2 separate regions of the Homo sapiens genome follow, and region 1 is linked to region 2. Evidence: fine-mapped expression QTL. A gene starts in region 2. The other region holds a variant in brackets. All regions are shown on one strand. Distances are between the middles of the regions. Region 1 has its middle 13 kb from the start of TRE-CTC2-1. Region 2 holds the start of SH3BP5L (SH3 binding domain protein 5 like).

Region 1 (16,538 bases), 61 kb before region 2:
ATCTCAGAAATCCCACTAAAGAACTTATCCACGTAACCAAGAACCACCTGTTTCCTCCAAAATAATGAAGAAAAAAAAATACCCTGCAAGCCTTAAATATCATTAAGATATTTAATTCCTTAAATGTCTAACAGCACCAGACACGAGGATGATTATTGGATTGGGGAACAGAACAGGAGCCAATTCTTAAAGGTAGTCTTGCTTCCTTGAGCAGCAGAACCCTTGCTACTCAGACCTTCTTCCTCCTCTTTGTCCTTCCTCCTCTTTGTGTGCCAGGTTGGGCTGGCAGTATAGCCACAAATATGGGGGCTACTCACCACCAAAGAGGAGGCCTAGCACTCTGTGGGCAGGACTGGTCCCTGTGAAATCAGAGGAAAACCAGACTGTGGCCACAGTCACACTCCTCTGGCTTCTTTCTCTTTGTTAAGTTCCCAAACATTGGCCTGTTGTTGGTTGACCCAAAGACCACTCTCAGGTTCAATGACTGGCTGGAAGGACTTACAGAACTCAGAAAAGTTGTTATAGGCTGGGTGTGATGGCTCAAGCCTATAATTCCAACACTTTGGGAGGCTGAGTTGGGAGGATAGCTTGAGACTAGAAGTTAGAGACCAGCCTGGACAACATAGCAAGATCCCATCTCTAAAAAAATTAACAACAACAACAAAATAGCCAGATGCAGGCCATACACACCTGGAGTCCCAACTACTCAGGAGGCTGAGGCAGGAGGATCACATGAGCACAGGAGTTTGAGGTTGCAGTGAGCTATGATTGTGTCATTGCACTCCAGCCAGTGACAATCAGAGCGAGACCTCATCTAAGAAAGAAGAAAGAAAGAGAGAGAGAGAAAAGGAAGGAAGGAGAAGAGGAAGGGGAAGGGGAAGGAAGGAAAGGAAAGCAAGCAAGCAAGCAAGCAAGCAAGAAAGAAAGGAGGGAGGGAGGGAGGGAGGGAAGAAAGGGAAAAAGAAGAAAAAAGAAAATGTGTATATTCATTACAGTGAGTTTTGACTTATTAAAGTGAAAGAATACAGGTTAAAATCAGCAAAGGTACCCATGCATACATTGTCAGCTGATGTTTAACAAGAGTGCCATGAATACACAATAGGAAAATGATAGTCTCTTCAATAAATAGGGAAAATTGTATATCCACATCCAAAAGCATGTAATCGGAGTCTTGTCTTACACCATACACAAAAATTAACTCAAAATGGATTAACCACTAAAACGTAAGTTATATAACCCTAAAAATCCTAGAAGAAAACATAGAAGTAAAGCTCCTTGACTTTTCTAGGTCCAGGCAATGATTTCATATATCTGACAGCAAAAAGACAGGCAAAAAAAACCACAAAAAAAACCCAAAAATAGACAAGTGGGACTATATCAAACTAAAAAGTTTCAGCATTACAAAGGAAACAACCCATAAAATAAAAAGACAACCCAAAGAATGAGAGAAAATATTTTCAAAGAACATATCTGATGATGGGTTAATTTCCAACATAAGGAACTCCTATAAATAGCAAAAACAAAAATAACCTGATATAAAAATGAGCAAAGGACCTGAGTACACACATTTCTCCAAAGACCTACAAATGGCCAGGGCCAGCAGACATATAAAAAGATGCTCAACATCACTAATCATCAGAGAAACAGGAATCAAAACCACAGTGAAATATCATCTCATACCTGTTAGAATGTCTTTAATCAATCAATCAATTAACAAAAAAGAAAAGAATGTTGTCAAAGATGTAATGAAAAGGGAAACCTTATACATTGTTGGTGGAGATGTGAATTAATACAGCTATTATGGAAAATAGAATGGAGTTTCCTGAAAAAAAGACTTAAACTAGAACTGTCAAATAATCCAGCAATAACACTTGTGGGTATGTAGCCAAAAGAATAAACATTAGAATCTTGAAGAGGTATTTGCACTCCCATTGATAGTAGCATTATCCACAATAGCCAAGATATGGAAACAACCCAAATAAATGTCCATTGAGAGATGAGTGGATAAAGAAAATGCACATGTGTATACACAAACATACAGACAACAGAATATTATTCAGCCTTTTAAAAAGAAGGAAATCCTACTATTTGCAGTCATTTAGATGGACTTGAAAGACATGATACTAAATGAAATAAGTCAGTTACAGTACGACAGATACTGCCTGATTCCTCTTATATGAGGTATTTAAAATAGTCAAACATATAAAAAGTAGGCAATAGAATCCTGGTTACCAGGAGATGGGGGAGAGGGATATGGGGAGTTGTTATTCAATGGATATAAAGTTACAGTTACATAACATAAGTTCTGAAGAACTGCTGTACAACATAGTGCGTAAGTTAACAATAAGGTTTTGTGCACTTAAAAATGTTAGAGGATTTTTCTCATGTTGAATGTTCTTATCGAAAACAACAACAAAGGGATAAAAGGAAACTTCTGAAATTGATGGATGTGTTCATTGCCTTTACTGAGGTGATGGTAACATGAGTATGCACCTATGTCCAAATTGTATACATTAATTATGTGCCATTTTCTGGATACCAATTATACCTCAATAAATCTGGGAAAAATAAATGACCAAAGGTAAAACATATAGAGTATCCAGAAAAGACCACAACAGACTTCCAGTTGTCTTTTCCCTGTGCAGTTGTATAGACAGTGCTTAGTTTTCCAAGCAACAACGTATGACAATGCATATAGACAATTGTCAACCAGGGAAGGACACTCAAGCCTGGGTGTCCAGAGTTTCTCTCAGAGGTGAGTCAAATAGATATGATTGACTACCTGAGTGGTTAGCCTGAGTCTCCAACCCATCCAAAGGTCAAGCTGGTACTGCATGAGTCAAGGCCCACACCATAAATCATATTGTTCACATAGACTGTCTGGGGTAGCCCAAGCTGCAAGTAAATAAAAACACTTTTATCAGGCAGGATATTCCAAGGGCTTAGAGGTAGCTTCTTAATAGCCAGGTGTGAAAGAAAAGAAAATTTCAGGACCCTCTAAATATATTATGCCAAAGGAGAAGTTAAGTCCCAGAGATTGAATCACATAGAATGTTTACAGTTGTGCTTCTTAGATTACAGCTTAACTCTCTTCATTTTTATTCTTGTTCTATAAATGACTAGGAGACCAGAAACCAGACCTTCACGCCTCCATCCAATCACTGATTTTTTTTTTTTAGATTAACTGCCTCCTTTATTGTCCTGTAACTAACTCAGACCAGATGACACCCAAGTCCCTCTATGACCGTTACATCGTCAGGGTAGAATGCTAAATATGCCTTTCAAAGAAAGAAATAAAGTAAAAGGAAGAAAGGAAAGAAGGAAGGAAGGGAAGGAAGGAAGGAAGGAAGGAAGGGAGGGAGGGAGGGAGGGAGGGAGGGAGGGAAGGAAGGAACAAGACTACCTTGACCTACTCAGATTGTTGTAACTATGCATTAACCCTTATATAGAAAGATGTTGAAAGTCTGTTAAACTTCCCCATGCTTTGTCTATATAAGCAATCTCAAATCTACAGTTTGGAGCACTGACTTCCATTCTTTGGAATCTGTGCTTCCCAGGCAGGCCTGTCCTCAACTTTGTGCTTGAATAAACTCTCTTTAAACTAGATTCTGATCCTTTTGGTTATTTGGGGTTGACACAGGCGACGCCTTTTTTTCTGCTGAATCAACCCTTTACTGCAAAGACTTCATAAAGAGCTTAGTTTTCATTGTGTTAGTCATTACCTAGAAAGTATAAATTAGCTATAAAGACTTTATTTACAAGAGATTGGACTTTTCTTCAAAAACACTTTTTTTTCTTTTTTAAAAAGACAGGCTGTCATTCTGTTGCCCAGGCTGGAATGCAGTGGCTCAATCTTGGCTCACTGCAGCCTCAACCTTCAGGGCTCAAGCCATCTTCCCGCTTCAGCTTCCCTAGTACCTAGGAATACAGGCATCTGTGCCTGGCTGATTTTTAAATTTTTAGTAGAGATGAGGTCTTGCCATGTTACCCAGGCTGGTCTTGAACTCCTGGGCTCACGCAATTCACCTGCCTCAGCCTCCCAAAGGGCTGGGATGACAGGTGTGCACCACTGTGCCTGGCCCAAAAATATTTCTTAAAAGTACTTTAGACATTCTCTTGTGGCTCTTCATCAAAGTATATATCTCTTATTAAGCAAAAGAGATGACAAATCATTGAATCAAGCATTCTCAAAATTTATATCATGAAACCCAAAAAGTATAACCCATATGCCCCACTCACAATCACAAATTTTCTCAAAAATATCTACAGCACAGCCAGTCTACACTGTCCTCACCCACCGAGTTCCCTCTGTTGTCTGGCCTCAAATTGGATTTGTAGAGAAGAGGCTAATACTGTTATCTCAGTCTAGTTGGCTACAGGCAGGGCTGCCCCACCTTGAGAGAACCATTAATGTAGTGGGCAGTGTCCAGCACTCTAAAAAATAAAATGAAAGACAAAACAAAATGTTGGAGCAACACATCTGACAGAGACACATTTTGTTTGCATAACTTTTTTTCAGTTATGTAACCATGAGTGTATGTCTATGTTACCATGCATGCGTCAGTGCGTGAGTGATTTGTGAGTGGTATGTGCATGCCTGCGTGTATATTGTGGGTGTGTGGTGGGTGGTGAATGTGTGTGTCTGTGATGTGTGATGTCTGTGGTGTGTAGAGAGGTGTGGCTGTGTCGGGGGTGGGGAGGTGTGGTGTGTGGTGCATGTGTGTATCTGTGATGCATAGCATCTGCAGTGTGATGGGGGGCTGTGGATGTGTGGGGAGGTGTGTGGTGTGTGTGGGTGTGTGTGGTGTATGTTGTGTGTGTGGTGTGTGGTGCGTGTGTGCATCTGTGATGTGTGGTGTGCGGGGTGTGTAATGTATAATGTGTAGTGTGGGTGGTCTGTAGCGTAGCTGGGTGTGGGTGTGTGTGGGGGTCGGTGTTGGTGTGTATGGTGCATGTGTGTATCTGTGAGGTGTGGTATGTGTGGTGTGTGTATAATGTGTATGATGTGGTATGTGTGTGGTGCATGTAGTGTGTGGGGTGAGTGATTGTAAGTGGGCTGAGTCCTTTCATGACATGGATTACTTCTGTAGCCCTTAGACTGGTAAGAGACCACATGGTTTGTGTAGAATAGTCAGGAGCCAGGCAGCCTAAACTTGCATCTTGACACTGGCTCATAGGAACTTTGTGACCTTGGGCAAGATTCCTAATCCCATTGCATCTGTTTCTTCGCATAAAAACGGTGAACACAATAATAGTACCTGTAAGAATTAAAGAAAGAGGAGAGAAAGATGAAGGGTGGCTCGACAGAAGACAGGTTTATTTCAGAAAACAAACCTGTGGGGACTTCTGACCTAGTTAGGGCAGAAGCTGCACTCTTGCAGAGTAAGAGTTTTTAAGGATTCAGGCCGGGTGCAGAGACTCACGCCTGTAACCCAGCACTGTGGGAGGCTGAGTCAGGCGGATCACTTGAGGTCGGGAGTTTGAGACCAGCATGACCAACATGGAGAAACCCCGTCTCTACTAAAAATACAAAATTAGCTGGGCGTGGTGGCGCATGCCTGTAATCCCAGCTGCTTGGGAGGCTGAGGCAGGAGAATCACTTGAACCCGGGAGGTGGAGGTTGTGGTGAGCTGAGATCACACCATTGCACTCCAGCCTGGGCAACAAGAGCGAAACTCCGTCTCAAAAAAAAAAAAAAAAGAAAAGAAAAAGAAAAGGATTCAGGGTGGGAGAGTTTATCAGAGGCTTGGACTGCTTCTGTGACTCTTTGTTTTGCCTATCTGGGAGGGAGAGTTGTGTCTGTTCCCATACATTTTTCTGCAGCTGCAAGCATATCCCCCGAGTCTGCCTTTAGCTTCCCTGTCTTAGAGCACCTGAAGGGAAAGGAATGTGCTTATTAAGGCCCACTGTTTTACTGGGGCTCCAGTGTATGAGGGTGAAGTTTGGCAGTTACCTAAGAGACTTCCTCCCCTCCTTTCCCTGTCCCCGAGCTGCCTTATCTGTGTTTTACTGTCTGCTCTTTTCTGGCTGCTTGTAGTTAGAAGATAAGTGATTTCCTTGAAATGCATGAAGCTAGAAAGGGAGCTTGCAGTGTTTGTTTGAGATGACGGTGCTCCTGCTCTCTCAGTACCTATCTCATAATTTGTCGTAAGAATTAAATGAAAACAATATTAAACGGAAAACATTTAGTACAGTGTCCGGCTCAGTAAGTGTTATTTATTTATTTATTTATTTTCTTTTTGAGACGGAGAAGTCTCGCTCCGTCACCCAGGCTGGAGTGCAGTGGCATGATCTTGGCTCACTGCAATCTCTGCCTCCCAGGTTCAAGCGATTCTCCTGCCTCAGCCTCCTGAGTAGCTAGGATTACAGGCACGCACCACCACATCCAGCTAATTTTTGTATTTTTGGTAGAGATGGGGTTTCGCCATGTTGGCCAGGCTGGTCTCGAACTCCTGACCTCATGATCTGCCCACCTTGGCCTCTCAAAGTGCTGTGATTACAGGCGTGAGCCACAGTTACCGGCCCATGTATTTCATTTTTTATTTTTATCATTCTTGTTATTGTTGCTATTATAAGTCATAGTCAAAAGTAAGAAACACTTAGAATGCATCAAAGCCAGTGTTTATGGGAAAAGGACTCCCTATTCAATAAATAGTGCTGGGAAAACTGGCTAACCATATGCAGAAGAATGAAATTAGACTCCTACTTCTCAGCATATACAAAAAATAAGATGAATTAAAGATTTAAATGTAAGACCTCAAACTATAAAAAATCCTAGAAGAAAACCTAGGAAATACACTTCCGGACATTCGCCTTGGCAAATAATTTATGACTAGGTGCTCAAAAACAATTGCAACAAAAACAAAAATTGACAAGTTGGGCCTAATTAAACTAAAGAGCTTCTGCACAGAAAAAGAAACTATCAACAGAATAAACAGAC[A/G]ACCTACAGAATGGGAGAAAATATTCACAAATTATACATCTGACAAAGGTCTAATATCCAGAATCTATAAGGAACTGAAACAAATCAACAAGCAAAAAACAACTCCATTAAAAAATGAGCAAAGGGCATGAATAGACAATTTTCAAAAGAAGACATAGAGCCAACCAATATGTAAAAAAAGTTCAACATCACTAATCATCAGAGAAATACAAATCAAAACCACAATGAGATATCATCTCACACCAGTCAGAATGAGTATTACTAAAAAGTAACAATATAACAGATGCTGGCAAGGCTGTAGAGAAAAGGGAATACTTATGTGGGAATGTAAATTAGTTCAGCCCCTGTGGAAAGCAGTTAGGAGATTTCTCAAGGAACCTAGAACTACCATTCAACCCATGAATCCCATTACTGGGTATATATTCAAGGGTAAATATATTGTTCTACCAAAAAGACACCTGCGCTCATAAGTTTATTGCAGCACTATTCACAATAGCATGGATATAGAATCAACTAGATGACCATCCACGGTGGATTGCATTAAGAAACTGTGGTACATATATACCATGGAGTACTACACTACCATAAAAAAAGAATAGAATTATGTCCTTTGCAGCAACATGTATGCAGCTGGAGGTCATTATCCTAAGTGAATTAACACAGAAACAGAAAAGCAAATATCATGTGTTCTCACTTAGTAGTGGGGGCTAAACTCTGGGTACACATGGACATAAAGTTAGGAACAACAGACACTGGAGACTCCAAAAGGAGGCAGAGAGGGAGAGGAGCAAGGGCTGAAAAACTTCCTATTGAGTACTATGTCCACTGTTTGGGTGATGGGATCAACAGAAGCCCAAAGCTCAGCATCACACAATCTGCCCTTGTGTTAGGTTGGTGCAAAAGTGTTTGTGGTTTTTGCCATTGAACGTAATGGCAAAAATCGCAATCACTTTTGCCACAACCTAATGATAAACCTGCACAAGTACCCCCTGAATCTAAAATTAAAATTAAATTTTTTACAAAGCCATTGCCTTCCATCAAGCCAGTTTCTTGTCCAGACTGGAGCATTCTACTGGTTTGGTGTGTTTCGCTCCCATCATCTCCTAACTGAAAACTCATTTTTGCTAATTAAGAATAACATCATTACTAACAAGATGGATTGGTATTATATGCCTCCTGATATAATGCTCTGGGAAGCGTACAATATAACTTCTGTGGCACTCTTGCCAAATGCATGTCCTCTATTTAATAATGAACAAACAGCCAACAAACTCAAACTCAGGGCCATTCAACAAGACAACTGAGTAGAACTCCTAAAAAGCGTCCAGGTCAAAAAAGACAAGGAAAGACTGAGGAACCATCAGAGATGGAAAGAGATTAAGAAGATGTGTCAATCAAATGCAATTTGGGATCCTGGATTAGACATTAGTGAGAAAGCTGGGGAAATTTGAGTAAGGCCTGTATTTTAGTCAATTGCGTTGTATCAGTGATAACTTTCTGGTTTTGGAAACAATACTATGATCAGGTAAAATGTTAGCCTTAGGATAAGCTGAGTGAAGGCTATATTTTTTTATAATTTTTGTAACTTTTCTATAAGTCTAAAATATTTTCAAAATAAATAGTAAGCTTATGTGTGTATAACAAATACATATACATATGCATGCATAAAAACATACATAAATATTATATATCCTGTAATCCTGAGTACAATATATATCATAATGGGCAGCCAAACCACTGGCATGCTGCAGAGTTTTACCCCCTTGAGATTTTCTAATTAGCTTGCTCTTTGGAAACCTGTGATCCTTTCACTACAGGTTTGCTGTTGACTGCTTTATCACAGGAAGTAAATGCTTTTAAAGTTTCCTTTTGAACCCTCCAAAGAGAATCCCAAGAAACGCCAGTTAATAAGAGCTTATTATGGTGATCCCTCAACTCCTGCCAACATTCCTCATTCCCAGAAGACCAGGCTGGGGCCACACAGCTGGAGCATGCATTCACAAAGTGCTGTCTCCCCAGGCAGAGGAAGCAAATGGCAAGAGTCCAGGATGAGTCTAAGGGCAGCTGGGCAGTTTAAACTCCAAAAATGCAATTCTCCAACATGAAAATCAGATTCCCCAACCCCCACCTTTTATCCCAATGTCTAGGAAGATATTTTTCTTCTCTTTAGCTGCTTTTTGTTCAATATCTCAGTGGTATAATTTGAATTCAAACAGATCAATCTTTCAGATGGAGTACAAATGATCTCTGAAGGAGCTCTGAAAGTAATTAATCTCTTGTACTAAATCAACAGTCATCCTCACTTCTCAGCACAAGAAAGCAATTAGTCCCAGAGGTGAGAACTCATTTAGGTGATCACCCTAAGACTGATTTAGATAATGATATTTCTATGAATAATGTACACTCAAGTATCAGGCTGGTGATATTGATAACTCATACATTCCTATTTTTATTTTTTTGTCTTTATGGTAATAAAATGTAAATCTTCCTGAAAAAAACCTAGCATGTAGCAGCCACTGAGAGATCTGTCTTCATCACTTTCCTCGTTTGGACATGGGGCAAGTTGGTGCAAACCAGAGTTAACATCAACAAGGCCTTTCTTTGGTAACCATTATTTGCACAAAATATCATAAGACACGTTTCTTATTTTTTTTTTCATTCATGATTTGTATCCTTGTAACACCTTAAGACAAATTACTGAGGAGTAAACTGACAGGGTAGGAAAGTTCACTTTGTAGAAGGAAGACATTATGTTCTAATGGCAGATGTGAAAATGTGATACATAGTTCCATCTCAAGGCCTGCATGTGTTTATTTAGCAACTATTTGCATGTGTAGCAGGTTATTCAAATGCATCTCTGCTTTACTTTGAATTGCCAATTTAGATACATCAGATATTACAGATCTCTCAATGCAGAATTTAGGAAGGAAATGGCCAGGGAACTGGTCCGTGATTCCTCTCTTATGGTCAGCTTCAAATATATAAAGAACAGGATGAGTGTGGGGGTTATAGAACTGTTAAGATAGTCTTCATCAAGCACTGTTTCTCCTGGGGTCCCTACCCTCACTATCTTTAAGTGGGATAGAGTTGGTTGGAGGGTGCATTCATTAGTCCCATGTCTAATTCAAAGGAGGTCTAGCTTCTGAACCAAGACTGGGTTTTGAAATTAAAATAATTGTGGCTCTGTTGGGTACTATATTAATTTTCTATTCCTGATGTAACAAATGTAAACTAAAAATAAAATTTTTAGCTGAGCATGGGGTCACACACCTGTAGTCCTAGCCATGCAGGAGGCTGAGGTGAGAGGATAGCTTAAGGCTAGGAGTTCAAGACCAGTCTGGGAAACGTAGCAAAACCCCATCTCTACAAAAAAAAAAAAATTAAAAAGTAGCCAGACATCGTGGCTCATGCCTGTAGTCCTAGCTACTCAAGAAACTGAAGTGAGAGAATCACTTCAGGCCAGGAGTTCAAGGTTACAGTGAGCTATGATTATGCCACTGCACTCCACCCCAGGCAAAAGAGTGAGATCCTGCCTCTAAAAAAATGATAATAAAATAAAATCCTAAGTCCTCCAATGACAGAAGAGACCCCTTGTGGCCAAGGGGACTGCAAAAAAAGTCTGCAGTCTCACTTAAAAAACTGAGTTCTGGCCACTATGAGATGGGAAGTAGGATACACCTCATTTTACCCTCTTCCTTTTAAATTTAAGGCACAAAAACTGACCAGGATTCATCTGAAAATAGAGATCATAAGACTGACAAAACAGACTCATTGTGGTAATGAGATATCAAATTATAAACAAGACCTAAGACCATGCCAGGCATGACTTAAGGCACACCTGCAGGTCATTAATCTTGCTACATAGCATTATTATCCTAACTTAAAACATTTCTTTCTGCTGACTCCAAGTTTTAGACAGAGCTTTACTCATTCAACTGAAATTAAAGAATCTCTGAATCTATCTATAACCTATAAGCCCCTGCTTCAAGATAGCCCACCTTTTCAGGCCAAACCAATGTATACCTTCCATGTATTGATTTGTCTTTGCCTGTAACTCTTGCTCCCTAAAATGTGTTTTTAAAAAACTATAATGAGGTGGGCGGATCACCAGGTCAGGAGTTCAAGACCATCCTGGCTGATAGGGTGAAACCCCGTCTCTACTAAAAATACAAAAATTAGCTGGGCATGGTGGTGTGTGCCTGTAATCCCAGCTACTCAGAAGGCTGAGGCAGGAGAACTGCTTGAACCAGGACCCAGGAGGCGAAGGTTGCAATGAGCCGAGATCGCGCCACTGCACTCCAGCCTGGGCTACAGAGCGAGACTCTGTCTCAAAAAAAAAAACACAAACAAAAACGAAAAACTGTAATCTGATCACCTCAAAGGCACTTTCCCAAGACTCCTTGAGACTGGTTTCGTTGGGCTGAAATCACTTATATTGGCTTAGAATAAACCACTTTAAAATATTTTACAGAGTTTGGTTTTTTTCATTAACACAGCTTAACTCAAATTTTGTGTCTTACTAGCCATATGCAGAAGAATGAAGCTGGACTCTACCTTTTACAAAATTAGGACTCTACCTAATTACAAAAATTAATTCCAGATGGATTAAATATTTAAATATAAGACCTCCAACTATAAAAATCCTAGAAGAAAACCTGGGAAATACTCTTCTGGATATCAGCCTTAGCAAATAATTTATGACTAAGTGCTCAAAAGCAATTGCAACTAAAAGAAAAATTGGCAGGTGGGACCTAATTAAACTAACGAGCTTCTGCACAGTAGAAGAAACTAGGGTCGGGCACGGTGGCTCATGCCTGTAATCCCAGCACTTTGGGAGGCCGAGGCGGGCGGATCATGAGGTCAGGAGATCGAGACCATCCTGGCTAACATGGTGAAACCCAGTCTCTACTAAAAATACAAAAAAATTAGCTGGGCATCGTGGCGGGCGCCTGTAGTACCAACTACTTGGAAGGCTGAGGCAGGAGAATCACTCGAACCTGGGAGGCTGAGGTTGCAGTAAGCCGAGATCGTGCCACTGCACTCCAGCCTGGGCGACAAGGCGACAGGAGCAAGACTCTGTCTCAAAAAAAAAAAAAAAAAAAAAGAAAAAAAAAAGAAACTATCAGCAGAGTGAACAGACAGGCTGGGAGAAAATTTTCACAAACTATACATCTGAAAAAGGCCTAATATCCAGAATCTATAAAGAACTGAAACTGAAACAAATCATCAAGCAAAAAACAAATAACTCCATTTAAAAATGGGCAAAGGACCGGGTGCAGTGGCTCACACCTGTAATCCCAGCACTTTGGGAGGCCGAGGCGGCGGATCACCTGAGGTTGGGAGTTTGAGACCAGCCTGACCAACATGGAGAAACCTCATCTCTACTAAAAATACAAAATTAGCCAGGCGTAGTGGCACATGCCTGTAATCCCAGCTACTCGAGAGGCTGAGGCAGGAGAATCACTTGAACCTGGGAGGCGGAGGTTGTGGTGAGCCGAGATCCCGCCATTGCACTCCAGCCTGGGCAACAGGAGTGAAACTCTGTCTCAAAAAACAAACAAAAAACAAACAAACAAAGAAATTCTTTAAAAACTAGAAACCCTCCAGGTGCAGGCTATAACACTCAAACCTGGGGATAACAGACCATATGAACAATTAGCTATATACAAATTGACAAATATATACATACATACCATTTTTTTAAGGCTCTGGATCACAAGTAAGCTTTCTAAAATATAATGCACCACATTCTGACATAAACATTTGTAGGGAGACCCCCTGAAACTATTGCTACGGAATAAAAGATGAAATGCTCCTGATTATTGTAAATACAAAATTGCATGCAGGATTGTGTAAAGACAATGCCAGGTTGGACTGCCAGAACGAGCCAACAGTGCATGATGTGCTTCCCCCTGCAGAGAGCCTATGAATGGACGTGCGGTCAGGGAGGTTTCACATCACTAAGATTCCTATCCCAGGAAAACAGATGTTCATAGCTCTGGGAATGGAATGCAACCCTTGTGGAGAGCCTATAAACAGACACATGAGGGGCGCCTGTCCATATGGATAAGATAGGGCTATAAACGCCCTCATCTTGCCACGGCTCTTCTAGGCCTCTTTAGGGTTAAGGCATACTCCCTTCTGAGAATTTCTGGTCTAACCGATTGTCTAGCTTCATGTCCTGTTTCTATGGATTGTTTGTAACCAGCTTTTCCTGCAACTGTTACTGCTGATTAATATCTTGCTAATCATAGGTAATGGAAATACTGTGTTTCTGTTTTAAGGCTCTGTTAGAAATTACTGATGCACACACTATATTGTAAATTCTTATCTCTGTATACTGTACTTCTGCATACAGATGTTATGTTAAAGAATTACTTCATCCCCATGTGACCATCTAACCTCATAATCAAATGACCCTAAATCCCTCACTAACCTACCCCTGCCCTCACTAAACTTAATAATAAATGCTGGTATATCCCGTGCATTTTTGGCTCCGTGGGACCAGAAGGCGGTGACCCCCCTGGACCCAGCTTTCACTATCTTGTGTGTGTCTATTATTTCTCAACCTGCCGATCTGCCTGGGAACAAAGAGAGAGCCCCATTGCATTGCGGGCTGCTGGCCAGATCCCACAATAAACATTCATACAGAAGGACTCAGAGGTAAATAAACTTGAAGCTTTCTTGCCTCTGCTTCTATACTGCTCTATGCACTTTTTACTGCTCACCCAAATTATAAGACATTACAGGAATGAATTTTATTCCAAATCTTTTTAACTTATATTAAAGGAAACTAGAGGAACTAAAATTTTCTAACCTAGTTCAAATTAAAATGAAGTCCATAACACTGTCTACACCACAGCAGGTTACATGCACCAAACAGTACTCATTAAAGGAAGGACTTAAAGAAATAACAGCAAAGATTGTAGAACTCCTCAAGGAAGATATTATTACAATTGTCATTTCAAATAACTTTAATAGTTCAGTATGGCCTGTCTTAAAAACAAACAGGAGCTATAGATTAACTATTGACTATAGAAATTTAAATAAAGTCTCAACTAAAATGCCAAGAGCATTACCAGATGTAGAAGAGCTAGTTAATAAGATCATTAATCATAATGACAAATACTATACAATCATAGACATGTCAGATGTGTTCTTTGCCAAACCAATAAATAAAGCAAGCCAGGAATATACCAACTTTACATGGGAAGGTAAACAATACCAATTCAAAACATTACCACAGGGATATCTAAATAGTTCAGTAATAGTTCATTCCATTTTGTCATCACACATAGACCAATCAAAATATACATCTATAACAAGAAAAACTTGGGACCGTGATGTGCATCCCCCAAACTGGAAAGAAACCAAGAACCAAAGAATGACTTGGACAAGTCCAGCTTGAGAAGTAAATGAATGTATTTGGACTTACATACAGGGACTCCTGGATGGTGGTAGGATAGCTCTAGAGATCCACACCACCTCTCATTTCTAAACTGCTTAAGCTAATTTTCTGGCTCTTTGCCTACTGTGTTTAAGCAATGAGACTGTTTTTCTCGGAAGGTTCTCAGATACTCCACGGGATGTTTGGGCTCTCAGGGACCCCTGCTCCTAGGCTGGGCACCATGGCTTTGGCTCACTGCTCAGTCTCAGGGTTCAGGCAGCAGATGCATACCCTTAAGTAACCTGGTGGGAGACACATCATGCTACAAGTCACTAATAATATTATACAGAGATAACATCATAATGCTAAATAATGACTAGGGAACAAATTAAACAGGAAAAAATCCCAATTAATAACACATTTAAGATTATTGGGATAGACTATTAATATAGATAAAAACACAAGCCCAGACACCAACTGCAAATTTTTAGGAGTCCGATGGTCATCAGAAGGGAGAAAAATCTCAACCACAGTAATAGATAAAATAAAAGCCCTTAAGCTGACAAAAACAAACAGGAGGAACAAAGACTAACAGTTTTATCTGGATATTGGAGACAGCATACACCTTACTTAAACATCATCTTGGAACCAATATATCTAGAAAATCCCAAGACTTCACATATGGACAAGAACTTGAAACACTCAAAGACTACATTAGCACATTTCAATCACTGCATTACCCATCTTCAGATTCACAACTTGGGTTGAAAGTTCTGATGAGTGATGAATATAGAACATGATCATTATGGACATAGAAACTAGATTCTAAATCTTTCCTACTGGTTGGATTTCAGATAACAAAATTCCCATACTCGAACAACAAATACAGCCCATTCAAAAATACATACGGCTTACACATGAAGCCCTAACCACTAAGCATCTGACTGGCAACAACAACATTACAAAAAATGTCATATGCCTTTTCTTCACTGGATAAAATTGAGTCCTGGAAAACTGACAGGTATCCAAATTGGTCCAAAACTGCTCACATGGAATGGATACATCCAGGGTGGAGACAACAGCTTTGAGGGTCAATCAGGTCTTCTCATGGAGCAGATTCACAAGACAAAAATAGACTTGCCAGAATGTATTCTGAAGACAAGAAAAATCTGTGACAATATAGGAAAATGGGTCCTGGTCTCGTTTAATGTCTTGCCAAACACCTGGTTTATGGAAGGATCAGCTTCCATGACCCAAAGGCCAGACCCATTGAACAGCAGAAGCACTCAGACTCCAGGACCATATAATCCTGAAGGAGTCAAATGAATTGCTCTCTCCACAGCATGCAGAACTGATTGCAGTTGTTAGAGCATTTGGACACTCAGTATCAGAAAATCAAAAGAATATATATATGTGTATATATTTACAAATTCATGAGCAGTCACAACAACATAGCCCCATAATCACACAAATGGAAACAAAATAATTTTAAAATTAATGACAATGACATATGGTCCGAATCTTACTGAGAGGAACTATATAAATCATCAAACAGAATTAAGATATTTATGACACATATCAGCATACCAAAAAGATAACTTAGGCAGGGCACAGTGGCTCATGCCTGTAATCTCAACACTTTAGGAGGCTGAAGTGAGAAGATTGCTTAAGCACAGGAGTTGGAGACCAGCCTGGGCAACATAGCAAGACCCCTGTCTCTACAAAAGATAAGAAAAAAAATTAGCCATACGTAGTGGCACACGCCTGTAGTCCTAGCTACTTGGAAGGCTGAGGCAGGAGAATAGTTTGAGCCCGGAAGGTTGAGGCTGCGGTGAGCTGAGATCACGCCACTACACTCAAGGCTGAGTGACAGAGAAGGATCCTATCTCAAAAAACAAAAAATAAAAAGATCATTCAAAGGCCACCAATTTAATAGATAATTAGATGAATTAACAGGGAACATAACAATTGACACACAAAATGTACCCAAATTAAAGCTACACAGAAATCCGCACAACTCATGAAGACATTCATCGCCACCTCTACAACTCAGAAGAAAATCAGACTATGAATGGGAGATACCCCAAGTACCCCCAGTAGCCATAATAAAACAGCAAGATGAATTTAAAATTAAACAGGCGCTGTGAGCAGCTTACGCTCTACAAACATTCTTATAATTACATAAGCAGAAAGGACATTTAGGCACACACT
Region 2 (16,538 bases):
TTTATTGAGGACCCACTGAGTCTGCACCTGGCTGGGTAATAGAAATATAGAGATGAATAAATTATGTTCCTTTACAGTATAGAGTCTATCCCATACCCAAGGGTGTAGGCCTCCCTCAGTGAGAAGAGGAGGAGCCATGGTGTATCAGGATTTGTAAAGACTAGGAAGTTAGAGGCGAATACGCGAAGCCGTGGGCGTGGATGACATTTCTAAGAGGCTATAGGTGGATTAGTAGGGGCTGAAGGCACCATACCTAGAGCACCAGCCTCCAAAAGGAAGCAGCTGCAGAAGGGGAAGCCAGTAAAGGCTTTGGGGAGGAAGAAGGTCAGGACACGGTCAGGTTTTAGATTCCCATGTGAGGAAGTGGTGGACAATGTCCAATGCTGAAGTAAGTCAAACAGCATCAAGGTGGTTATGTTTGGCTAGAGGGCACTGTCAGTGGTTTATGAAGTGAGACAGAAAGGAAGGGAAGTAAAAGTTATAGGCATGCAGAGCAGGCACATAGTACATGGCTTACGTTGCTGTTGGGGGCAACTGAAAGGCAAGTAAGTAGGGCTAAGGTATAGACCACTATTTCAAATCCCTGTCTGAAATGTGAGCCCAGTGGATATTCACAATGCCAAAAATCAGATGCTGAAGGCTTACTGTGTTACTGGGGGTATAAGGACTGAGAAGACTGTTTCAATTTCATGAATCTTATTCCTGTATTGCTAAATACAATGTTTGCCATTCTTCAAACATTCTAATTTCAGTTACAATAAAAATATTGGCTTCTAGAGCATGGTAGCTTCCAGTTCTTCCCCGAATAATTCCACAGATGTCAACTGACACAGTTTTCAAATACAGGAAAGAACCAAGTACAGAAAAGTGAAATCTAACAATTTAGAATAATAAGATCTGGAAAGACTGGCTGACTAAATCCTGAAATGAAGATTTTATTTAGTGTTTAAGGAATAAGGGTTTGTATTAATTGCAAGTTGCAAACATATTGTAAAGCCATATCAAAATGGATTTCAGGAAACAAGAAGATAAGCAAAAACATAAATTGAATCAATAACACACATATTAATCTTAATGGCTTGACACAGAGGATTTAATGTCTTTTAAACAGTAATCTTAATAGAAAATTATTGGAGTTTGTGCTGCTTACAGTCTGTGGTCAACTTCAAGGGCTCAAACACGATTCCATCGGAGAGAATGCTACTTTAATTATTTTTACATTTGTACAGGTAAACTAATTGTGAAGAGCTATAGTAAAGTAGATAAAATTGGAATAGCACAAAAGTAGAATATTTGTTTAGAGGATATCTGAAGATCAACTTCCTTTAAAATACAAATTGCTTCCTAGTCCTTAACCACAATTTTTTGAGTTATGTTATATGGAAATTATGTTCAAAATTCACATCTAGGCTCAGTGGTTCACAAAACAAAACACAGAAAATGAGCTTAAAATCATAAAGCAGAACTTTCAGGGGGAAAATCAGTTTCAAAGTAAAATGCAAGGTAGGATAGAATCAGTTTTTATAATTGAAACCACTTTAAAGGTTAAGAACAGTAGTATAGGGGCTGGGCGTGGTGGCTCACGCCTGTAATCCCAGCACTTTGGGAGGCCGAGGCGGGCGGATCACAAGGTCAGGAGATCAAGACCATCCTGGCTAACACGGCGAAACCCCGTCTCTACTAAAAAATACAAAAAATTAGCCGGGCGTGGTGGTGGGCACCTGTAGTTCCAGCTACTTGGGAGGCTGAGGCAGGCAAATGGCATGAACCCGGGAGATGGAGCTTGCAGTGAGCCTAGATCGCGCCACTGCAGTCCAGCCTGGGCGACGGAGCGAGACTCCATCTCAAAAAATAAAAAATAAATAAAATAAAAAAGAACAGTAGTATAAATAATAATGGTATCACATGCAAACCTGTCGGATCTTTAGAAAGCATTTTGATTTTGGTTATTTTCACAAATTAGAGCATTTAAAATGTAAGTAGATACATTTAATATATGATGTGTTGCTATAAATTATTTTTAAAAATCTTAAATACTTTTGTCTGTGTTTAAAGACTGGTTCCACCACTTAGCAGCAGTATGACCTTGGACAAGTTATTTAATCTCCTTGTCTGTCAATTTCTTCAACTGTAAAATGAAGGTACAATTTACTGTAGTTGGTTTTTGTGAGGATCAAATGAATAAACCAGAACAGTGCCAGGTGCAAGGCATACACTGCATAAGTGTTTGCTGTTTTTATTATGACATGTGATGAGCAACTCGGGGAAGTAATTTACCTCTGGAAAACTCAGCAGATTTAACAAGGGTAAAAATAAAGATTTTTAGTAATACAGGTTTAGGGCAAGCGTGGGGGCTCACGTCCGTAATTCTAATGGTTTGGGAGGCTGAGGCAGGAGGACTGTTTGAGGCCAGGAGTTCACAACCAGCCTGAGCAACATAGCAAGACCCAATCTTTACAAAAACAAAAATCAAAACATTATCCAGGCATGGTGGTGAAGGCCTGTAGTCTTTGCTACTTGGGAGGCTGAGGCAAAAGGATTGCTTGCGCCCCGGAGTTTGAGGCTGCAGTGGGCTATTATCAGGCCACTGCACTCCAGCCTGGGTGACTGAACAGGACCCTGTCTCTAAAAAGTTAAATAAACAAATAAGCGTAATACAGGCTGTCCCTTCCATTAACATTTATTAGTAGATTTTACATTATATATTTCTGGGAGCAAGTTTTCAACTGGATTTTTAAAAAAGTTTTAGGGAGGTATAATTGATACACAAATTACACACTGAAATGTACAGTTTGAAAAGCTCTGACATATATATACCCGCATGAAAGCCTCACTACAATCAAGATGGAGAACATATCCACTACCCACAAGCTGCTTCATGCCACTTTGTAATCTCTACCACCTCCCCACCAGGCAACCACTGATCTGCTTTCTATTACTATATATTTGTCAACTAATATGTTTAATCAGCAATTAATGGTGGTATTTATTAAATATATAACTGATAGTAGAAAAAAGTTAAGAACTATAAAAAGGTAGCTTATGTTGGTAGACAAAAAAAACCTAAAAAAGGTAATTTTTAATGATGGAGGCAATTTAGGGTACTTATGTGAGAAAATTAGAAATAAAAGTTACAAGTAAAAATTTATGAAAAAATTATTTAACTAAGAAGTAAAGTTGATTTGTGATATTACATAGTAATTGACAGTGTTGCTAACATCTTTATATGGCTTTCATATTTTTACATTTCACTCATAAAGTCAGTCTATAGGGATTGGTTGGTTGTTTATTAGTGCCAGGAACTAGGAGGGATCCTTGTGGCAGGATCCATATGTGGCTATTTAAACCTGCTCAAGAGCTACACATGACTAGTAGCTACCATATTGGACAGTGCAAATATAGTAACTTCCATCATTGCTTAAGTGCTACTTTAAGCGCTGATTTAGAAGACTTCTGAGGTATGTGATCTATGATGGAAATGAGGAGAGTCTAAGCTGAAGCTATGGCAATGAGATGAACAGAAGGCATCTCTCTGAGATACTTAGTGTGATGAAAAGCAATGTGGGGGGTGCCTTCTAGGTTTTTCCGTAGGGTAAAGAGGTGGACTGTAGAACCGCTTACCAGCATTGAATGTCAGAAGAGCAGGATTTGGCAAAGGGGATGAAATCAGATTTGGATCCATGAGAGAGGGGCAACTCTGGGACAGGCCAGCGGTATCTCAAAGGCTGAAGGATCTCAGAATGTGATCTGCGGAAAGTCTGTGAAGACAGAGCTCTAAGGAAGGAACAGTAGCCATGGGTAAGGACTACAGCCATGCACTAGGGTAAGGACACTCAGGGAAAGTAGGCAGCATGAGATGGTCAGAAGCTAACATCAGGGCCTGGGGTACAGTAACATTTAGGACAGGGTTTTCAAACTGTGAATAGGTAATGAAATCAACAAGAGATCTCCACCAGCATTTAAAAATAGTATAAAAATATTAATGTGCTTTACATATAATTTGGGTAAAGATCTTTTCCTGTACCTTTTTTTTTTTTTTTTTTTTTTTAGTATTTATTGATCATTCTTGGGTGTTTCTCAGAGAGGGGGATTTGGCAGCGTCATAGGACAATAGTGGAGGGAAGGTCAGCAGATAAACATGTGAACAAAGGTCTCTGGTTTTCCTAGGCAGAGGGCCGCCTTCCGCAGTGTTTGTGTCCCTGGGTACTTGAGATTAGGGAGTGGTGATGACTCTTAAGGAGCCTGCTGCCTTCAAGCATCTGTTTAACAAAGCACATCTTGCACAGCCCTTAATCCATTTAACCCTTAGTGGCCACAGCACATGTTTCAGAGAGCACGGGGTTGGGGGTAAGATTAACAGCATCCCAAGGCAGAAGAATTTTTCCTAGTACAGAACAAAATGGAGTCTCCTATGTCTACTTCTTTCTACACAGAGACAATAACAATCTGATCTTTCTTTTCCCCACATTTCCCCCTTTTCTATTCGACAAAACCGCCATTGTCATCATGGCCCGTTCTCAATGAGCTGTTGGGTACACCTCCCAGATGGGGTGGCGGCCGGGCAGAGGGGCTCCTCACTTCCCAGACGGGGCGGCTGCCGGGCAGAGGGGCCCCCCACCTCCCAGACGGGGTGGCGGCTGGGCAGAGGGGCTCCTCACTTCCCAGACGGGGCGGCGGCCGGGCGGAGGGGCTCCTCACTTCTCAGACAGGGCATTCGGTCAGAGATGCTCCTCACACCCCAGACGGGGCGGTGGGGCAGAGGCGCTCCCCACATCCCAGACGATGGGCGGCCGGGCAGAGACGCTCCTCACTTCCTAGACGGGATGGCGGCCGGGCAGAGGCTGCAATCTTGGCACTTTGGGAGGCCAAGGCAGGCGGCTGGGAGGTGGAGGTTGTAGCCAGCCGAGATCACGCCACTGCACTCCAGCCTGGGCAACATTGAGCACTGAGTAAGCAACACTCCGTCTGCAATCCCGGCACCTCGGGAGGCCGAGGCTGGCGGATCACTCGCGGTCAGGAGCTGGAGACCAGCCGGGCCAACACGGCGAAACCCCGTCTCCACCAAAAAATACGAAAACCAGTCAGGCGTGGCGGCGCGCGCCTGCAATCGCAGGCACTCGGCAGGCTGAGGCAAGAGAATCAGGCAGGGAGGTTGCAGTGAGCCGAGATGGCAGCAGTACAGTCCAGCTTCGGCTCGGCATCAGAGGGAGAGCTCGGCATCAGAGGGAGACCGTGCAGGGGAGAGGGGAGAGGAGAGAGGGGAGAGGGGAGAGGGGAGAGGGGAGAGGGGAGAGGGGAGAGGTCCTGTACCTTTTTAATGAATATATTTACACACATATATGTATACTGGGTTGCAAGGTAAAACATATATCTGAGTTGTCTTCCAATTAGTTTGAATCTCACCAGTTTATAAAATGAGCACCATCGGCTGGGCGTGGTGGCTCACACTTGTAATCCCAGCACTTTAGGAGGCTGAGGCAGGTGGATCACTTGAGGTCAGGAGTTGGAGACCGGCCTCACCAACATGGTGAAACCCTGTCTATACTAAAAATACAAAAAAATTAGCTGGGCGTGGTGGCATGTGCCTGTAGTCTCAGCTGCTCAGGAGGCTAAGGCAGGAGAATCACTTGAACCTGGGAGGCGGAGGTTGCAGTGAACTGAGATCGTGCCATTGCACTCCAGCCTGGCGACAGCGTGAGACTCCATCTCAAATAAATAAGTAAAAATAAGTAAATAAATAAATAAACAAAAATAAAATAAAATGAGCACCATAGACTATCACCTACATGGGAAGTGAGATAGTGTCCTTTTTCTCATCATTGCCTGAAATTCTGGCACGTAATAGGCACTCCGTAAAGACATATTGCATAAAGGAATGAATCAACAAGCCAGAGAAGAGGAAACCCAGTACCAGGGTGACTCAGAAGCTAAATGATAAGAAAAAAGAGAGAAATAACCCAGTGTCAGATGTCAGTGATGTGGCAATATTGAGAGCATGGATGACCTTATCTTTGTAATTCCTATGAATTGGCAGCATCCGGAGCCAGACTGTAGGGGTGAATGGGAAGGGAGGAAGTGGAGAAAAGACAAATGATAGTGGAGACTGAGAGGCTGTTTGTTTTGTATTGAAGATGTGAAAGTTCAGTATGTATTCTGGAGAAATTATATAGAAAAGGCAGGTTCTAAAAACGTGCTGTCCAGGAAAGGAGAAACTAGCTACACAGAGCTATTTAAATTAAAATAAAAAATACAACTTCTTAATCACAGTAGCTCCATTTCAAGTTCTAAATGGCCACATGTGTCTACAGACTACCATACTGTGCAGAGCTGATTAACATTTCCTTCTTTGCAGAAAGGTCTTTCAGACAGTGCTGCTGTAGACAAAAGTTTTAATTCATCATGTTTGTGCTGGCTTCAATAAACAAGTTCAGGTTAAATCAATGCACAGCATCGCCCAATCTCTTCCTACCCAAAACATTATCCAAACCCAGCAGAAAAACTATTGTGGGATTATATCACAATCTATACATGATAGATTCACATGTGGTCTCAGTGGGTGAGAGTTAACCTTGGAAGAGGCCAGTGGAGACTTTAAAGGAGCTGCTAAATCTCAGGATGTGATCTAGGGGTCTGGCCATTATATGTATTCATAATGTTTTCCCACCAAAGATCTGTGACACGTAGCAGCAGTTTGTGATTGCTAAGCATTACACAGAGAAAAGGAGCTATGGGATGGGGTATAAGAATGACAGGTATTGGAGCAGTGCTGAATAAGAAAGGTTAGATAATTCAGGCTAGGGTAGACAGAACATCCTGGGTAAAATGAGGTTATTACAGTGAAATTCTAGTTCTACAAAAGTAAAGTGACTGGTAGACAACAAATAAATCATGTTTATCACCTTATATTTAATTTTTATGGTTTTTGTATGGCACCTTAATAATAAAAAGGACTGTGGTAGAAGACTGAGGCATTATTATCCATCAAAGCTGTCCACTTAGACAATGTTACTCAAGGTCCTGCTGACTTATTGAAATTAGAAAAATCACTTTTGTAATTTTAAAAACAAAACCTCCAATTTAATGGAAAAATCTGTTTTCAATCACCTCTTTTAAAGGAATATATTTTGCTCTGCTCAATTTAAAAAAATCGTTATTCATGGGATGAAGGGATAGAAGAAATGGACTGAGAACTGTAGAACTCTTGGCACATGACTCCATCCAAACCTCTGAGTTACTAAGAGACAAACTTTAGCATGCCTTCTAGCAGTGTCAGATCATGTCCCTAGGAGAACCCCAGCTCCCCCATGAAAATGCCTGCCTGAGAAAGCTCAATGCTACCAGGAGAATTTACTATTTGTTCTAGCCAACACCTGATGATAGGCTCCTGACCTCCCTTTCTCAGGGCGTTTATTAAGGGCTTACCATTATGAATCCTTCCTTCTTCTCTTTAAGGTGTTTATGCGTCTGCTACAACTCAAGAGGTCCTTCTAAAGGACCTGAGAGCCATTCCTTTGAAATTGATCGTCAAGAAGGGCAGAGCCTCTACCTCCCAATCTCAGTGCAAGAATAGCAAGCTAGGCTGGGCGTGGTGGCTCACGCCTCTAATCCTAGCACTTTGGGATGCCCAGGCGGGTGGATCACCTGAGGTCAGGAGTTCGAGACCAGCCTGGCCAACGTGGCGAAACCCCGTCTCTACTAAAAATAGAAAAATTAGCCAGATGTGTTGGCATGCACCTGTAATCCCAGCTACTCGGGAGGCTGAGGCAGGAGAATCTCTTGTACTCGGGGGTGGGGGTGGGGCGGAGGTTGCAGTGAGCCAAGATCGCGCCATTGCACTCCAGCCTGGGCAACAAGAGTTAAACTCCGTCTCAAAATAAATAAATACATAAAAAAGCACTCTAACTTCTATAGCTGCTAGCTAGCAGACACATCTGGCCGAATCGCATCTATGCCAATCAAATCTGTAATTTTTCACTTCTCCAACACTATTGAGCCCTGATCACCTTCCTTCCTTCATTCTCCCTTTGAAATGCCCAGTCACTTCTGTACAAATCGGAACAGAGGTCAGTTCTTTTCCTTTCTGTAAGTAGTTACTGAAAAAAGTCTTTTTCACTGCTTCAATGTCTAGCTGGGTTGTCTTTGACAGGATCCAAAAAGGAGGGGAATTCAGCCCATTTGCCTTTTCCATCTGCAGGGCAAAGTTTTGAGTTGACTCTGAGGAAGTTACGCCTTTTGTAAAAACAAAACATCCAACCCTGAATGAAGCCCTTCCCCTTAGGCCTAGGCCCTCCCCTCACCAAGCGACACCTAGAGGTGACAAGCAGGCGCTCGCTCAGGGACCTAGGTAACGATACACAATGCCATGTAACAAACTCCTGCTCATCGAGGGCATCTGACCCTGGGTGCACGAGTGAATTAACTGAGTTAATGTTGACTAAGTTCCTGGTTAGTATTCACGGAGCAATTGGTGACCCCACCAAAACGTCGTTCAAGGTGCAAGGTCCAGAGGCCTCGAGGAGTGGGATTTACACATCGGAGCCGTCCGCTCAGACGCCGTTAGTGGAGGGTTCCGCCGACTTCACGGGAGTGAGGAAAGTCACTTTTGGAAATCGACTTTGCCTTCGCCCGCGAAGCCCGCCAGCGTCCGGACTCGAGTTGCCCCCGGAGCCACTGCCGGAAGTTTACCAGCTCACTTTCGGCGTCGCGCCCGCCTCCGTGGAGCAGGCCGGAAGTGGCTTTCCGGCAGCCGCCGCCGCAGCTCCGTAAAGCAAGATGGCACTACTCACTCTGAGGCTATTATCTCCGTTTTATATCTAGTATTCCTCTTCTCACCAGTTACTCTCGATTTCCGTCCCGCGCCCTAATTTTCTTCAGCACCACATTCTCATGTTTTTCTTTCATTCAGCCTTGGTGGAGTATGGTCTGGAGGCAACCTACGGCTAGCCTGAGCAACGTGGGGCACCATTTTGTACGGAAACTGAAGGCAGGGCGGGGGAGTGTGAGGCCTCCCGAGGAGGCCCGGCTTGAGAGAGAGCGTGGGAGGGAGAGCGTTGTTCACCGATGATGTATTTCCGCTTCTGGTCTGCCTGGTCGTTTTTGGTTGGATCGGCTTGTTGCGGGGAGGGAGGGGGGGAGATTGTTTGCAGCATAGAAGCTCCGCGGACGGGAAGGTAAACTGAGGTAAGGCTGTGCGGGGGGCTTTTGCGCATGGCTGGGTAGAATGGACGGGAGTAGGGTCCTTGGGATTGCGGAAGAGTGTGGAATTGGAGACGGGAGGCTTAGATGTCTCGGGTTGGACAGAGAAGGTGGGGTGGGGCTCGGGGTTACAAGGTGAATCGCAAAGCCGGGCTGGGGTGGAGTGGGACGAGCGGGAGACCACAGGAGATGGAGGAGAGCCTAGGGGTGCAGAGGAAAGTCTCGAAGGCGCTGGTTGAGGAGGGCCTGGGTCGAGAGGAGCTGGGACGGGGGAAGAGTAGAATCTAAAGTCCTTGAGGGCTAAGGAGAGAAGTTGAGGTAGGGACTGGTCGGAATACATGGGTGGGGGCGTGGTGAGAGTGTAGTTTTTGGGAGGCTGTAGAGTTGGAAGGGGCTGGTGGCTGCGGTTTTGATGCTGACATGACCATATACTTGGCCTTTGTTTCTCTGCAGCTCCCCAGAGACGCTCATCCTACAGCCTCAGCTCGGGCCCAGCCTTCTCTCTCCAGCTGCCACCACAGCCTGGAGGCGCCTGCCTCCACCCTCCCGAATGGTGCTCCTCCTAGCAGGCCTCGGTCCAGGATCCAAGCCCCCTTTGCCCCCTGCCTTGGAGCTGTTGCTCCGGGTTTGTCACAGTGGACTCCCTGTGGCGGGAAGGGAAGAACTTTTGCACAGACAAGGCTTCAGCTCTAGGAACCCCACTGACAACTTGAATCTCAACCTCTAACCTAGTGTGAGGTTCTTCCTGTGCCCACCTTTTCTGCCTTTTGAGAAGAGAAACTCTTCTCCTGGCCATCTAGAGCCCAGGAAGCCCCAAGCTGGGGCCCTGGTCCCAGCATGTCAGTCCTCTCTTGTGCATAGGGCTCTGCCCTCCCCCTGTCAGCATGGCTGAGCTCAGACAGGTTCCAGGAGGGCGGGAGACCCCACAGGGGGAGCTGCGGCCTGAAGTTGTAGAGGATGAAGTCCCTAGGAGCCCAGTCGCAGAAGAGCCTGGAGGAGGTGGAAGCAGCAGCAGTGAGGCCAAATTGTCCCCAAGAGAGGAGGAAGAACTGGATCCTAGAATACAGGTGAGAGCACTGAGAGCAGGGAGAGAAGGAGAGCCCAGATTCCAGCCTCCCTGAAGAGTGTTGGATGAATGAGGGCTTAGACTTACTCTGTCCCCAGTCTGCTGGGGCAGGAAAGGAGAACAAGTTTGTCAACAAATCATTGCAGGGTAATGTAACAAGTTCCAAAAGAGTTGTGTGTCTGAAGTGCTGATGGAGTGCAGAGAAAGGCCTGGCCTTAGTGCTTGGGAGGCATTGCTGAAAGCTTCACTGAAGGAGCAAAGTGTCACTTGGCAGTAGATGGAGGAGGCACACTTTAGGTCAGTGGAGGGTAGGTGTGTTGTACTTCTTTCCAGATAAGCAGAGGGGCTGCCACCTTAGTTAGGGATGCTGTGTGAGAGGAGATGACTTTGATACTGGGGGACAGTTTTGAGGCTGAGTGAGAGAATCTTTTCCCCTTTCTCACCTTCTCAGCGGTACCTTCCAGGGATGTGCGGCCCACATTGCTCTGATAATGTGTTTCACCCTTGTAAACAGTGAGACCTTTCCAGTGTTATAAAGGTAGCATCAACTTTAGATCTATAAAGAAACCCCATATGTTCAAGGATTTGTAACTTTTGTTGTGGCCAATCCTTAGTAACATACATACCTGGCCCTCAGGATAGTGGGTCTCCTAAAGGAATGGAAGAGCAGTTTATTGCCTTGGAGTGTCTACAATCTAGTTGGTAGGACAGGCAGATCTTTGTGTAGGAGACCTGGGGGTAGTCAGTGAGGAAGACCAACTCCATGTGGAAGAGATGCCTGGCCAATCAAAGCTGGGTTGCAGTGTTTCAGGGAATTGGCTGAGAATGACTTCCTGAGGAAGCTTCTTGGGCAGGTGACGACCAGGATGCTCCTGCATGTTTGGGGCTTGAGTCTGCCATTTGTTCCGGTCACATCTCCAAGACTCTGATGTTGTGGAAGTGACTCTTCTGTAGGTGAGCAAGAACATATGAAGGCTCAAATTCCTAGGCTTATCTGTCAGCAAACCTTTATTGGATTACTCCAGTGAGTTGGGAAGAAATCAAAGCCAGTCCTGGCATTCTTCCTTCACTCTCTGTGTGGGTTCCTGGGATATGTGTGTGTGTGTGGGTTCCTCTTCTACTGTGTCCATGCTTATAATGGAGCAGTGGTGAGCCATTTGTTTCTGGCATGAGTCAGTAATTTATTTCTGCTCTGCCTGACATTGCATTGAAAACAGCCAATTTTTCTTGCTATTTCTACAGATTTATCATCCTCTGAGGAAATCAGTTGTAGTGAAAAAAGTCTTGGGCTGAGTTTCACGCTACCTCCAACCCCATGATTTATGATTTTTATGGAAGTTTCTTTACGTTTCTGAGCCTCAGTTTCTTCATCTGTAAAGTGAGCAGTTGGTCTAGCTGATTTGCACAACTCATTCTTGCTCTGCTCTGACACAAGTCTACAGTTCTTTCTCAAACTCTTTTTGCTTGTTCCTTGGTGATAGTTTGTAGATAGCACTTTGGGAAAGAGCTGTCTCTCTGTTGCTTGTGGAGGAGGGCTGTGTAATGTGCATTATATGCCTCCCTACAGCCTTCCTTGCCCTGCTCCAGAGAAGGCTTCTGCAGAGGAGAATCCACTGTGGTCTCTTTACTTGGCCTCTACTACTCCTATGTATTTTTCCAGTGTCTGCATAGGCACATGGTAGTAGTAGGAAGAGTCATGCTTGCATTGTGCTGTCTAATAGGGTGGACTAGCTGCATGTGGCTATTTAAACACAATCAATTAAAATTAACATGTAAAAATGCAGTTCCTCGGCCAGGCATGGTGGCTCACACCTGTAATCCCAGCATGTTGGGAGGCCGAGGCAGGTGGATCACCTGAGGTCAGGAGTTTGAGACCAGCCTGGCCAACATGGTGAAAACCCGTCTCTACTAAAAATAAAAAAAGCTAGCCAGGTGTTGTGGCGGGTGCCTGTAATCCCAGCTACTTGGGGGGTTGAGGCAGGAGAATTGCTTGAACCCAGGAGGCGGAGGTTGCAGTGAGCTGAGATCTGCCACTGCACTCTAGCCTGGGTGACAAGAGCGAAACTCCGTCTCAGAAAAAAAAAAAAAAGCAGTTCCTCAATGTTATACTGACAGTGCATAAATAGAATATTCTGTCATCACTGACTCTTCTATCAGATGAGCTCTATGAGAGTTGGAGTACACTGAGGTAGCGTAAGACTTACTTTGCCTCCAGTGAACTTGTGATGTCGCTGGTGCAGGAAAGGTAAAGCAGACCCTCGTCTCTCTTGCTAAACTGCACAACACGTTGTGGAATGTTGTGGGTTGTATAGGGAGGAAAGGTCTAGTAATAGCTTCCCTCATTTGATGACACAGGTGTGGGTACGCCAGTGCTCTGACCTCAGCAGGGAGTCAGTGTCTTCTTGCTGTGTGAGAGAGGCAGCCTGGCTTGAGGGGCACCCTTCACGGAGGAGGCCGGTGGCATTTTGCCCTTCTGTGCTTGGGCTTTCAAGATGAGGAGGAGATTGGGGTGTTTGTCTTTCGAGGTCCCTTTGAGTGTTGACAGTTCACTAGACCATGCACATTGCTCTGATCATGTGTTTCAGTGCTTTAGGTGGGTGTTCATTTCTCTGGATTCTCAGTGCATTTACTGGGTTTCCATCCACCGTCCATAAAAAGCCACCAGGGAGCTTCAAAAATACCCTTACCTGAGCCTTTCCAGACATGTGGATTCTCTTAGTCTGGGTGGGGTGAGAAGGGATTCTGATGTTACAGTCAGAGCCAAATCCACTGGGCCAGGTATATCCCAAAGGTAGAGCGCCTGTTTCGGTATTTTCTGAGGCTCCCGGAAATGGCTGTCCTTCGGATGAGGCCCTGTCTGACCTGGGGCTGGGGCTCCTTTGCAGGCAGGCAGCTCCATGGCCATTTATGGTGGGATTCCTCTGGAAGTTAGAAGGAAGTCAGCTGGTGCCTACCTGGAGCGTGCTGTCCCTCCAGGGAAGGCTGCTGGCTGTGTCTCCTTGTCATGATCTTAGTGGAGTTCTTTTGAGTCCTCCAGGCTCATCCTCAGCTTTCCGAGAGGGTTCCAGTGGAGGGAAGAGGAAAGGAGCGTGGATCTAGGATGGACCTGGGTCTGTTCTGTGACTTTCTCAGCCCCCTCTTAGTGGTTGCATTCTTTCCTCAGATGTGAGTGCTCTCGTTTACCTGCTCCTTTCCAAACTCTCTAGGGTGACTTTGCAACCTCTGTGACCTCATCTAGAAGTATGGGTTTAGCTTTCACAGGACAGTCATCACCCTGGCCCCAGTTACCATTAGTTTGAGTCTTTTGATGGTCTGCACTAGGTGGGGTGGGAGCATCTGCAGCCTGAGTCCCCATGCCTTTGATTCAGTGTCCTGGCATCCTGGGAATCTGACTGCTGTGCCCTGGGAAGGTCACCCTCCCTGCTGGCTGCTGGCTCACTGATGGATGATGCACGTTGATTCAGACTTTGTCCTCCCCAAATTCCGTTTCAGCTGAGTGCCAGGAGTCCCTGGTGAAGCAGGCCAAATGGAATGTGTTGCTGACTGCCCAAAACTGTCCCAGGTCCTCAGTGGATTCCTGCTCAGCCTTTCCCTGGGTGTCGCCTAGGTGGGCTATCCCCCTCCCTCCTGTGGTGACCTTGCCCTCCAGGCTGCTTTGCTCCCCAGGCATCTTCTTGTCCTGTTAGGGAGAGCTTTGTGACTCTGAGGGGACAGATCCCATCAGCAGATGGCTTTCTGTAAATTGCTGGAGGTGCCACTGGGAAGCTAGTTCCCATATAGAAAGATAATGCCCACTCCTGCCACTTGCCAATAGCAACAGCTCTTCTTGTCCTTTTAACAGTAGTAACAACTTATGCTGAGCCATCCAATCCATTGATGATCTTGTCAGGAGCTGGAAGTTGATGACTGGAAGCATTTGAGGCCATGGAATCCAGTGGGGATCCCGTCTTGGACTTTGATTTGCCACATGAACATTGCAGGGTGGCCTTTACCAACTGACCCCCCACAATCAATGTTTGTTGCATTTCCAATCCCTGTCCTTTTCCTACGTGGGCTGTGGTTTTCCTAGATTACAGCACTTCTTTCTTTACTGAGATGTCCTTCCAGTGGTGTCCTCATTCCCAGGAGGGTGGTCACAGTGGAAGGAAAGTGAGATCAAAGGTCGGTCCTGGATCCAGACCCAAGTCTGTCACTAATTTTCCGCCTGGTTGTTTCTCATCTATCAAATGCAAAGTTGCTGAGAAAGAATATTCCAGCAGGAGGTGCTGAAAGAACTGGTCACTCGTCTCCCAGATAGCCTAAAAGCCCCTGTAGGCCTCGTCAAGCCCCAGGAAGCTGGGCCCCCAGGGAGGTAGGTTGCCTTTCAGCTTGACAGACATTGCCTTTTTAGGGCCTGTTGGGGTGATCGTGTCAGTTGCTGGTGATGTCTCTGTTCGGAAGGCACTGTGAAACTTGGAGTTCCATGTGTCTGGTAGTGTTGATGCTGACCCTATGCCTCCTCTGGGGCCCTGAGCTGTGTTGGCTGCCTGTTCTTCCAGAATGGTTGTTATTTTATGGACACTGGGTTGTGGGACACTGTAGATGCATCTACCCAAATACAACAACTTCTAGACCTTCGCCACCCAACACAGGAGCCACATGCCACTGTCTAGGTTGAGATGTGTCACAAGAGTCAAGTGCATACGGATTGTGAAGACTTAGTTTAAAAAAGTAAAAGTATGGATAATAATATTATTTTATGTTGATCACATGTTGAAATATATTTTGTATATATTGGGTTAAATGTATTTTTATAATTTCACTCTTTTTTTAAATTTTTTTACTTTTAAAAAATGTGGCTTCTAGAATTAAAAATTCCATGTGCAGCTCCTGTTACGTTTCTGTTGAATAAGTCTCTTCGAGAAAATTTAGAGCAAGCTTTTCCAACCCGTGGCCTGTGGGCCGCATGCAGCCCAGGATGGCTTTGAACACGGCCCAATGCAAATTTGTAAACTTTTCTTAAAACATTATGAGATTTTTTTTTGTGATTTTTTTTTTTTTTTTTTTTTTTTGAGACTGAGTCTTGCTCCTTCACCCAGGCTGGAGTGCAGTGGCACAATCTCAGACCACTGCAACTTCCGCCTCCCAGATTCAGGTGATTCTCCTGCCTCAGCCGTCCCAGTAGCTGGGACTACAGGTGTGTGCCACCATACCCAGCTATTTTTTTGTATTTTAGTAGAGATGGGCTTTGCATCATGTTGCCCAGGCTGTTCTCAAACTCCTGAGCTCAGGCAATCTTCCCACCTCGGCCTCCTGAAGTGCTAGGATTACAGGTGTGAGCCACTGCGCCTGCCCACGATTTTTTTTTTTTTTTTTAAGCTCATCAGCTGTAGTTAGTGTTAGTGTATTTTATGTGTGGCCCAGGACAGTTCTTCTTCCAGTGTGTCCCAGGGAAGCAAAAAGATTGGACATCCCTAGTTTAGAGCCAGATTTGTGGCCCTCCTTAGGCAGGGTCTACACTGTTGTAGGTAGGTGTGTGCATTTTCATATCCTCATTCCTCGTTCCATTACAGGTTTCTACCTTTGTGTTCTTCCTGTTACTGTAATTAACATGTCAAACCATTTCCTGTATTCTTACCTGCTGACCCAGATCTTTTCAGGATCAAGGCAGGGGATGGGGGGAGGATAGAAGAGGTAGAAGGGACTAAAAGGAAGATTGTGCATGTCAGCCTGACTCCCTCACTGGGTTGCTGAAAGGCCCGAATGAGGTGAGTGGGGGCCAACATCACGGCCATATGAGTGGGAAGTGATTGTGGTGTCACTGCCAAGTGCAAGTCATGGGTCTGGGCAGCAGGCACATGCTGGGCTGGGTCTCTCTGGCCTGTCCAGCCTCCTGTCCAGAGACAGCAGGGGCTGGTGAAGGCAAATCCTATAGCTAGGCACCAGGTATTTCCTGGCACAAGGCCCTTGGCACAGACCAGCACTGCTCCTCAGTAGTGTCCTTAGCTCACCAGGGGCTCTGGGAACTTTTGTGTTTTCTCGGGCAAGGGAGGATGACTTGAGGCCAGTACCCCTCTCAGCTCTCTTCCATTTCATGGAAAGCCCTGGATGGTTCTATTGCTTCTCTCTCCAGTCCTTCCAGGGGCCAGGAAGGCACTCAAACCAGCTTGTCCAGCAACTTTTCCCCAGGACTCTCCCTCCCTCCCACAGGATCTGCTCTATAGGGACCTGCGGTCATGGTCACCCATTGCCCAAGCAGGCCAAAAGGCTTCTTGGACTCTATACACTTTCCTGATCT

The links. PIP is the estimated chance that this variant, and not a neighbour inherited with it, causes the effect.
Region 1: its variant is the best candidate, but not a certain one, in a credible set for the expression of SH3BP5L in whole blood (INTERVAL, PIP 0.60).

Annotation. Positions count from the first base shown.
Region 1 is chr1:248,879,091-248,895,628 of GRCh38, reverse strand. It overlaps a transcript of PGBD2 not described here. Among named protein-coding and RNA genes, the nearest start is that of TRE-CTC2-1, 13 kb to the right of the region's middle. RefSeq lists a silencer at 5,265-5,559 and cis regulatory regions at 5,754-6,210, 10,433-10,645. The variant A/G (reference allele first, on the strand shown) is at 6,941.
Region 2 is chr1:248,818,477-248,835,014 of GRCh38, reverse strand. It overlaps SH3BP5L (SH3 binding domain protein 5 like), which reads left to right and starts at 9,100. Exons shown (of 7, transcript NM_030645.3): 1 at 9,100-9,180; 2 at 9,649-10,262. The coding sequence starts at 10,080. It overlaps MIR3124 (microRNA 3124), which reads right to left and starts at 8,638; the gene lies at 8,572-8,638. RefSeq lists enhancers at 8,409-8,508, 8,579-8,628, 8,204-8,754, 8,739-8,998, 8,755-9,306 and 2 more and a silencer at 15,831-16,125.